Regions from separate parts of the Homo sapiens genome. Here region 2 is linked to region 1. The links come from fine-mapping of genetic effects on gene expression. A gene starts in region 1. The other region holds a variant in brackets. All regions are shown on one strand. Distances are from middle to middle. Region 1 holds the start of WLS (Wnt ligand secretion mediator). Region 2 has its middle 33 kb from the start of WLS.

Region 1 (5,381 bases):
TACCACTCCAGACATTTTTTATGGATCCAGTTTATATTTGAAGTGGACGGGGGCCAGGCGTGGTAGCTCACACCTGTAATCCCAGCACTTTGGGAGCAGAGGTGGGTGGATCACCTGAGGTCAGGAGTTCAAGACCAGCCTAGCCAACATGGCGAAACCCCATTTCTACTAAAAATACAAAAATTAGCTAGATGTGGTGGTGGGCACCTGTAATCCCAGCTACACAGGAGGCTGAGGCAGGAGAATTGCTTGAGCTCAGGAGGCAGAGGTTGCAGTGAGCCAAGATCGTGTCACTGCACTGCAGACTGGGCGACAGAATGAGACTCTGTCTCAAAAACAAACAAACAAATAAATAAACAAAAAACCCACCATTTTTTCTCTACCCTCTTATGCATAGTGCTTGGGGGTCTGTGGACTAAACTGACAAAAGACAGATTAGCAAGGCAAAAGACAAATTTTTGTTCACATATATCAAATGTATGTGGGCATTCATAACCACTCAAGGAGGCAGTTGTTAATAGAATTTGGAGCTTATATTCTATCTTAATAGGAGAAGAAGTGTATTTATGAGAAAACAAATGACTTTTAGGAAAGATAAATGGGCCCTTAGGAGTGCTGGGCTCAGAACATGATACCCCAAGGTATCTGAGTACTTTGAACTGAAGGACATTGGAAGGACAACAATTCTGTCTACTTCATCCTTTCTGATAGTACCTGGTGTTTGCCAAAGTAGAGGTAATTAATTACTATTCAGTGAATAACATTTGGACTGGGGGGGGGTTCCTCTGGGGCAGGTGCAAGTACTTTGACATCTTGGTATCCTTGAGTGCTTAAGAAAGAAAGCCTGGAACATGTTAAAGGCTCAATAAGTGACTTGGATAAAGAGTTGAATGAGAGAATAGATAAACAGCAACCACAGTCATGCATTGCTTAATGATGGGAATACCTTCTGAGAATGTGTTGTTAGGTGATTTGTCATTGTGCAAATGTCATAGAGGGCACTTACATAAACCTAGGTAGCATAGCCTACTACAGACCTAGGCTACACCGTGTAGCTGATTGCTCCTAGACTACAAACCTGTCTGGCATGTTACTGTACTGAACACTGTAGACAACTGTAATGCAATAGTAAGCACTCTGTGTATCTAAACATATCTATAGAAAAGGTGTTGTAAGAATATGGTATTATAACCTTATAGGACTACTGTCACACACACGGTCTGTTGTTGACTGAAACATCCTTATGTGACACATAATGATGTGTATATCCTCAGAACTGTTAAGAACTATTAGATGTTGAAGAGATGGAGTTTTGTATGCATAAAGTTTGGTGCTTGTCCTTGACAAGTCTCTGTTCTATTTGGAGATTAGAAATGAATGCTTCTATTAAGTGTAACCTGCATGACATCTTTTATAAGGGCAATGAAAATTCAGGAACAGAGTAGAGGAGGAGAGAGGACTGGGAAAAATAGTCTCTTGGCATGAAGAGGGTGTGTAAGGATGGGAGGGACAAGAAACAAGATGTGTGGGTGGTGGTGGTAGAAACTGCACGTTTGGGGAGCAGGGTGGGGTATTTACCAAACCAAGGGTCTATTGAGTAAGGTGAGTTGTACTGGCCAAGCGGCCAGTTTATGAAACATGGAAAAACCAGGCCCAGAAATTTAGGCTTGATAGAGCAGGAAATCTCTATCGGGAGCCCCGCCCCTCTTTTTATGGAAGTTAAGTATAAATATAAATATATGATTTCTCACAAAGAGACAACAAACATTGTAACTTAATATAGGTACCCTCTAAACCAACTAAGATCTCTTTAGACCTTTGAAATACAAACTGTGGGCTTGCTTTCACATTCACTTATTCATTCCACAAAAGATTATGGGGCACCTACTAGAGCTAGCATTTTGTTAGGCACCATGGGGGGTACAAAGAACAAAAAAAACTTGGTCCCTATTCCCCAGGAGTTTACAGCTCAGTGGTGGAGACAAACGTGTACACAAATCCTTACAATAGGAGGTAAAAATGTAAATACAGGATTGTAGGGGCTCAGTTCCCAGAGATACTGCATGGAGGTGGTGTGGAAAATTAGAAAGATTTTTTAACACTAGTTGGTTTTGGATCAGGTTTAACATTGATGGAGTAGAACATGTTCTCTTTAAGGCAATAACCAGGGTTAAGGCTGTGGAAGCACATGTGCTGGAGTAACGAACAGTGGTCTGATTTGGCTGGAGAGCAAGTTTCCTCAAGGGGCGCCGTGGGGAATTTAGCTGGGTATGTGCCCAATAACCGAGGCTGGGAATCTGGTAGAAAGAAGTCGAGCTGAGACTTTATTCCGCATCTCTGTGTTTTGACTTAGGCATCTATTGGGTCCTTTTAAAAAAAATTCTCCTCCTCTTTCCTAAAGAGAGTTCTAGCAGTTGGGGGTGGGGTGGGGACCATTTCCTAAAGTCAACGCGTAAGTTAAAGGTCTGCAAGGCGGTCCACCGGTGATTTAAATCTCGCACTTCGGAAACCAGAAAAGGAAACCTGTGAGAAGCTGGGCAGGGGGAACCCGCTTAACATCAACAGCAACCCCTAAATGGCATCAGACCTTGGAGAGACAGGTTGCAGGCCAGACTCGGGAGCCAGGCGCCAGCACCCGCCAGAGCTCTGAGCCCCGAACTGGTGGGCAAGGGGTAGAGGAAGAGAGGGAGGGAGGGAGGGAGGAAGCGCGAGAGGGAGGGAGGAAGAAAGGGAGGGAGGCGGCGTCATGTGATCCGCTTCCCTGCTCCTTTAAGCGTCCACAGGCGGCGGAGCGGCCACAATCACAGCTCCGGGCATTGGGGGAACCCGAGCCGGCTGCGCCGGGGGAATCCGTGCGGGCGCCTTCCGTCCCGGTCCCATCCTCGCCGCGCTCCAGCACCTCTGAAGTTTTGCAGCGCCCAGAAAGGAGGCGAGGAAGGAGGGAGTGTGTGAGAGGAGGGAGCAAAAAGCTCACCCTAAAACATTTATTTCAAGGAGAAAAGAAAAAGGGGGGGCGCAAAAATGGCTGGGGCAATTATAGAAAACATGAGCACCAAGAAGCTGTGCATTGTTGGTGGGATTCTGCTCGTGTTCCAAATCATCGCCTTTCTGGTGGGAGGCTTGATTGGTAAGTGCGGAGAGCTGCAAACTTTTCCCCCTTTCTGTCTTTTCGGGCCCCTTCCCTCTTTGCCTCTTGGGCTACTTGTTACAGTATCACTGCCTTGCTTCTATGATCTAATTAGTCCGGCTATTGTGCTTAAGAAAGCAGAGCTCCATGGGGCTCCGTGGGGCACAATCCAGTCTAGTGGCTAAGAGAAAAGGAGGGGAAAAAGTTTTGGCCTAGTTTCAGTATCCACTTGAAAGGCAAGAGGGGGGCGGCGGGGGTGGGAATCTTAAGCATGGCGACGGATCGCGCGAGGAAGCGCTGGGTTACAAAGTTGATTGCTCGCCCCCCCCCCCCCCCGCTTTTTCCCGCGTTCCCCCCCTTTTCCTCTCGGTTCCCTTCCAATCAGCTCCGGGAGGGCAACGTAATCGACTTTATTAGGAACAACAGAAGAGTCGGGGAACTGTGCCCGGCGCAAACCCGGAGCTCTGTTACAAGGCTGAGATACTTGCACGGTTGTAAATGCATTTGGTCGTCTTTGCTAGGGGCTGAGGGTTTGCAATTTGGGGTCCCGACCTTCGCGCCCTCTGCTTTCCCGCCGCACTCCACCCCACGCTCTGCCGTGGACAGGTCCGAATTGTCGGCCGGGAGGTTGGGTGGGATGGGGTGGGGTGGGAGGGAGTCCTTGACCAGCGCCGCGGGAAGTTGGAGAGGTCGGAGGGGAAAAGCGTATCCGAAAGGTGTTGCTTTTGGCCTCCTGCCCACTCGTGAATATCCCTTCCCCCACTACTTAGAGCCCCGAGAGCCGGTGACTGTGAATGTCCCCGTCCTCTTTTGGCGCTTAGGAGAGCGCCCTCAGCTCCCACCACAGCCCCCCGCAGGTGACAGCTCGCCGGCCTCCTCGGCGACAGCGCCCGCCCCGGGAGACCTCCCCTGGCGTGCACCTCCCGGACCTCTCTGAGTCAAACAGGCTTCCGGGTGAAGAAAACCGCCTCACGGACCGTCCACTCGGAAAAACTCCCTTCCCCTCACTGTCTCCCCATCTGCATCCATCCTCCCGCCTCTCTGCACACTCGCGCCCCCCGCCCCCTCAAGATTTGGGACATCCCGGCACAAACTTCAATGCCAACTTTGCAGCGGGCGCGGACGGGAGGTTCGGTTTCCTTACTTCACGGCTTTGTTAAACTTTGCGGAGTGGGGAGTCCACGGAGGGGCTTTCTCCGCGCGTGCCTTTACGGGCGCCCACGCGATGTGGGGTGCGGGGAAAACGCCCGGGGGCGCCGGCGGCGTCGCTGCCAGAGCTGCACAGGCTTGGGCACCTCCAGTCGTGTGCTTGGCGTTTTGTCTCCAGACTTGGGTTTGATGGGAACAAATTAAAGGGAGTTTGGTACTGTAAATCACGGTAACATCCAAGCCAATTGTCTTAAACAAAGGAGAGTGGGTGAAGCTTCATCAAGGAGAGAAATACCTAAAGGAGACAGTGCTCTTTTCTCTGTGTGCATTTATCCACAAAACAGAAAAGGGTTCAGAGTTTTCAAACAATCTCTTATCCCCAGTGTGGGCCAAACAGCTTCACATTTTCTTTCTGGAACCCTCACCCTCAACACACACACACACACACACACACACGCGCGCACACACACACACGGGTTGGCTTTTGTGTTAGGAGCTTCTGTTTGGCTACATGCAATCTCGTTTCCCCGTATTGGATTTTTCGAGGCTCTTAATACCTTCTCTGCTGGGAGCTGAAGGCAGCCTTCCCTGTGCCCTCACAGTGATTATGCAGCGGTTACAATTACACCTCTTGTCTCCCTTGATGAGCAGTTGCAGTTAGATGCCATTGGATCTTGTGTGATTTCAGTGGCAGACCATAATTAAAATTTCTTGCACCTTGTGCTTTCAGAATTAAATTGGCCTATTATCCCTGTCTGACCTTCATCCTCTTTGAGGTTTTTGCACAAGCAGCAAACCATTACACATAGTTTCCTGGTGTTTGTTGGTGTGTTTCTTTTTCTAGGCTGATCTCCTAGCTTTGCAGACAGAGCCCATTATCCAAGAAGTAGGCTTCCTAGGGCACTTCTGAAACTAGTAGGATTTCTGGGATGCTACCACCAAGGAGAAGCCCTAAGGGCACTCGTGAGTGGCTGGTGGACATTGGAGCGACTATAGGGTCAGAACACTTGTCTGTTCCAAACAGGGTTTGTCTGGAGTAAGTGGTGCCAAAGATTGTTTTTCCCGAAGAATTTGGTTAATGACGACAACCTCAAAAAGTCCGCGG
Region 2 (5,381 bases), 33 kb before region 1:
TATCTAACTCCTCTTTCACAGGCACAAGAACCAATGTGAACCCAAAGCAATGAGGAAGGAAGGCAGGAAAGGGAAAATAAGGGAGTGTTCCTTGTTGCCCTGGAGGCTTGGAGGAAAGCTGCTTAATTCTCAATTTATTTTTCTCCATTTATTCAGTCAATAAATGTTACTACAAAATTTTTAAGTACTTTTCATTTCTTAAAATTCTTCAGCTGTGTAATTACTTGTTCATTGATCTTCTGCCCAGTTAGACTGTAAGCTATGCGTGAGGCCAGAGGCCAGATCTGTTTTTTCTCGTTTTTTTTTTTTTTTTTTGGTTGCAGTGTTGCAGTGAGCCAAGATCATGCCCAGGCTGGAGTGCAGTGGTGCAGTCTCGGTTCACTGCAACCTCCACCTCCCGGGTTCAAGCAATTCCTGTGCTTCAGCCCCCCAAGTAGCTGGGATTACAGGCATGCGTCACCACACCCAGCTAATTTTTGTATTTTTAGTAGAGATGGGTTTCACTATGTTGGCCAGGCTGGTCTCGAACTCCTGACCTCAGGTGATCCGCCTGCCTCAGCCTCCCAAAGTGCTGGGATTACAGGAGTGAACCACCATGACTGGCCTCAGATCTGTTTTTTCTTAATCACTACTGTATATCTAGCGTCTAACCTAATGCCTAGCACAATGCCTTAAGAGGCATTTAGTAAATGTTTGTTGGTTTGAAGTATGGGAATTGCAAGTCCAGAGGACACATTTACCAAACTAGGAATGGAAAGGAAGAAGTAAGGAGAAAATGGTTGTTAAATAGTGGGTGAGAGTCTATACATTAAAAGGAGAGCGTGCATGCTCTAATGTACTTTATAATAAATGTGGTCTATTTGATTAATGCTGCCAGCTCAAATTTGGGTCTTCTGGAAAAAAAAAATGATGAAACCATCTCCGGAGACATTTTGTATTCAGTTCATTTAATATTTATACTGAGTTTCTTAAGTCAGCATCCTCAAGGAGACCAAAAATGATGGTTGGAATATGGAGAGTAATGCTCAGGAGGATGGGGTAAGAGCACTCCCCACTCACCCAGTCCTAGATAAATCAACATAGCCTGAGTTAAATTTAGGTACTTCTCTAAAGGGTGGAGGGACTACTCCAGAATAGTCCAAAAGGAAATAACATTCTTTCTCATCTCTTTCTCCACAAGACTCTAGCAGAGCTTTAAAAAGTAGGTTTCTTATTACAAGGAATAAAAACTATATAAATTAGAATAGAGATCAAAAAGAGACCCCAAAATTCAATGATTTAGTAAGATAGAATTTCACTGTGCTTTCCCATAACAGTCTATAGGTGGGCAGACCAGGCTAGTAGATAGCTCTGCTCAACAAAATAATTAATAGACCTAGATTCCTTCCATTTTGTTGTTCCATTATACCCTATTAAGGCAGTATTTCTCAAATGTTAACATGAATTTAAATCACTGGTGGATCATGCTAAAATGCAGATTCTCATTAGCAGGCCTGGAATGGGGCCTGAGATTCTGTATTTCTAAAAAGCTTCCGGGTGATGTTAATGCTGTTAGTCCAAGGCGCACACTCTAAGTAGCAAGGTGTCAGGGCATTGTCATCATCTTAATGGTCAAGGCTGGGTGACTGGCATATCTGTTCTCCAGTTTTCAGTAAGGGGTTAGAAAACAAGTCTAGGGCAAGAAGTTGTCACTAAGTAAACTATGTAGAAATAATATACACATCTTCTTTTCATATTCAATAGTCAAGGACTTAGTAAGATGGCCACACTTGGCTTCAAAGGGACTGACGAATGTCTTTAGTCTCTAGCTGGGCAGCCATATTACCATCTAGAAGGGAATTGACATTACCATACACAAGGAGAAAACTGATATATTGGGAAACAGTCAGCAGTTCGCACCATGAAAAATAAGGAGCCAGGAGCTTATATAATTAAGCAATAGAAATGAAATGTAACACCAAGAAGTAGATGTATGGGCCAGATATTGCACTGAAACCTATGAAAACAGCTTTGGCAAAAAGCTATTGGATCAGAAGTCAAGGATCATTGATAGCATTCCATTTTTAATTTTCAATCTCTGGCATGCTTTGCTTGCACATCCTCTGTGACTTGTTCGTAAGAGTTGCTGATGATAGGAGAGGTAGCAGCAAATGACTCTGAGACTATTTTAGTGACACTGAGTGGACTCTGACATGTGCTTATGGTTAGAAAAAACAAATATAAACAAAAATCAAGAACATAGCTAAGATTTCATTAAAGACATTAGGTCAAATACTAAAATAATCCAAGCAT[G/C]AATTAGGAGCTTCTGGATGTGTTAATATATAACATGAATTTATATATCCCTATGGCCAACAGTTTACCCAGAACACATTTCAAAACTTACCTGCTTCTAACAGCATCAGAAACAAAATTTATTGTTCAGCCCCTTGGATATGACACATTTTCTTAGAATATTCAGTTGCATAATAAATTTTAGAAGCTTCCAGCAAAGAAAATTTCATAACTTTTTCTGTCATACCCACATCAATTCAACATGTAAGTATCCTCTGCCTTACACAAGATCTCTTTTGCATCTAATCTCATTAGAGTGACCGTCTGAAACACTTCTGAGCCTGAAAGGGGCATTATTAACAATTATGCTGGGTATAAATCCAGCATATAAATCCAGTTGTGTAACCTATGACTGTCCTGGGTAGCCCAGGATGTATAACTCCAAGTCTAGGTTGTACCTATCGTATTTTCTTTTCATCTTTTTTCCTCAATTATTAGGTAGAAGTAGCAGACATTAATGTATTTGTGAGTAAGTTTCTTTAAGATTGCAATGAATAGCCACGTGTGGAGGCCCACCCCTGTAATCTCAGCACTTTTCATTTCTTAACATTCCTTAAGTGAGGTGGGAGGATTGCTTGAGCCTAGGAGTTCAAGACCAGCCTGGGCAACACAGTGAGACCTTGTCATTCCAAAAAGTAAAAAAATTAGTCGAATATGGTGGTGCATGCCTGTGGTCCCAGCCACTCGAGAAGCTGAGGTGGGAGGATCACTGGAGCCCAGGAGGTCGATGCTACAGTGAGCTGTGATCACACCACTATGCTCTAGTCTGGGCAACTAAGCAAGACCCTGTCTCAAAAAAAAAAAAAACCAAAAAATACCCCAAAAAGATTGCAAATGAATAGTCAATAGCAGATTACCTTGGTAATGAGAGTTTGTTACAAATAATTTAGGTAATGAAAATAAGGTGAGGTTATGACTGGAGAGCTGTACCATCAGTTTTTTGGCTTGTTTGTTTGTTTTGAGACAGAGTCTCGCTCCATCACCCAGGCTGGAGTGCAGTGGCACTATATTGGCTCACTGCAACCTCCACCTCTTGGGTTCAAGCAATTCTCCTGTCTCAGCCTCCCAAGTAGCTGGGACTACAGGCACCTGCCACCATGCCTGGCTAATTTTTGTATTTTTAGTAGAGACGAGGTTTCACCATATTGATCAGGCCAGTCCCAAACTCCTGACCTCAGGTGATCTGCCCGCCTTGGCCTCCCATAGTGCTGGGATTACAGGCGTGAGCTACCGTGCCCAGCCGTGGTGTCAGTTATTTTTGACCCTAATCCTGTACTTTAAAGAATAGGATGTAGGACAGGGTTAAAATTCAACATAATTCAGGATAAAGCCTCCACTGTCTCCTCCTCTCTGTGTGCCTCTGTTGGGCAGAGATTTTGCCAAGTCTTCTCAAGGTACTTGGCCTCCCTCACATCAAGTTTGTCTTCTTCAATCAGTAATGGCCAGGGAACAAGGATGGGTTGACTCACTGAAGATGTTGTTAACTTTTTATAGAAAAAAAATACTTGAGGATCATTTACTCTGACTATAGCATGTCATTAAAGCTGCTAGTGATATATGACTGTAGCATGGACATAGAACTCAGGGACATTTCTCTAGTAAAACAAACTCGGGACATTGTATACTTACAAACAACCATAGGAACAAGCTGACTATCAGTCATAATTAGAATATGCTGAGAATGTATTATGGTTTCCTACTAGGACATCCCTTGTTTGTTTAAATCACAGAGAAATAGTGCCACTAAAAAGTATAAAAGAGTGGACATCGTTGAACTGGAGAATTAAAGAAAGACTAATTAAAACATCATAGTTGAGGAAAAGAGAATAAGCCTGGTTTCCCCTTGCAATTCCAAATTCCAGCTTTTACTGCTAAACAAAAGCCCAACTTATGAAAAGTAGTATAAATAAGATAGAAGTGTATATCTCTCTCATATGACAGTCTAACAATATGGGATAGTAAGACAGCTTCATAAAGTTAAAAGCCCATTAAAAGTTGGAATTTGGAATTGAAGGGGAAACCAGGCTTATTCTATTTTCCTCAACTATGATGTTTTAATTAGTCTTTCTTTAATTCTCCAGTTCAACGATGTCTACTCTTTTATACTTTTTAGTGGCACCATTTCTCTGTGATTCCTTCTATGTCTGCATTCTGGGTGGTGTTGTCCTCTACTACATGGTTGAAGGTAGATTCCCAACCCGTCTCCTCAGTCAACATTTCACCAAGCAGAAAGGGGGAAGGGTTCAAGGGCGAGACATGCTTTTTGCTTCTTCTGCTCATATCCCATTAACTACAAGAAAGGCTGAGGAATATCTTTGGTAGCCAGGAGTTCTAGTAGGGTCTAGCATATCATAGTAAAGGACAAAAAAAGAATGGATACTAGGAGATTACTAGCAATCATGCCATATAATAGAAATAATAACTTAATCTATCAATGAATGACTAGGGGGAACCTGTTGGCATTATTTAGTAACCTTATATCATAGGAAAGTAAGGCTCACAAAGGTTAAACGATTTACCTAAGGTCACATAGCAAGTAATCATGGGAACCAGGACACAAATCCATGTCAGTTGACTGCAAATGATAGGTTATTTCTACCACTCTGTGATGTCTTTCCAACTGCTTTTCATATAAATTTATAAAAAGGAAAATAATGGTAGAAGATATCAGTAAGAGTTATTGTCGAAGAAATGTCAAAAGGCAGGAATACTAACTTTTTTCATTGTATAGATATAGAGCTTTTATAGATTCTGAAGTATTTCGTTGTGCCTTTTTTTTTTTTTTTTTTTTTTGAGACAGAGTCTCGCTGTGTCGCCCAGGCTGGAGTGCAGTGGCGCGATCTTGGCTCACTACAAGCTCCGCCTCCCGGGTTCACACTGTTCTCCTGCCTCAGCCTCCCGAGTAGCTGGGACTACAGACGCCCGCCACCACGCCCGGCTAGTTTTTTGTATTTTTAGTAGAGACGGGGTTTCACCGTGTTAGCCAGGATTGTCTCTATCTCTTGACCTCATGATCCGCCTGCCTCGGCCTCCCAAAGTGCTGGGATTAC

The links.
Region 2: its variant is fine-mapped to the expression of WLS in whole blood (TOPMed, PIP 0.99).

What each region holds. Positions count from the first base shown.
Region 1 is chr1:68,229,940-68,235,320 of GRCh38, reverse strand. It overlaps WLS (Wnt ligand secretion mediator), which reads left to right and starts at 2,798. Exons shown (of 12, transcript NM_024911.7): 1 at 2,798-3,127. The coding sequence starts at 3,022.
Region 2 is chr1:68,262,456-68,267,836 of GRCh38, reverse strand. No RefSeq gene overlaps it. Among named protein-coding and RNA genes, the nearest start is that of WLS, 33 kb to the right of the region's middle. The variant G/C (reference allele first, on the strand shown) is at 2,293.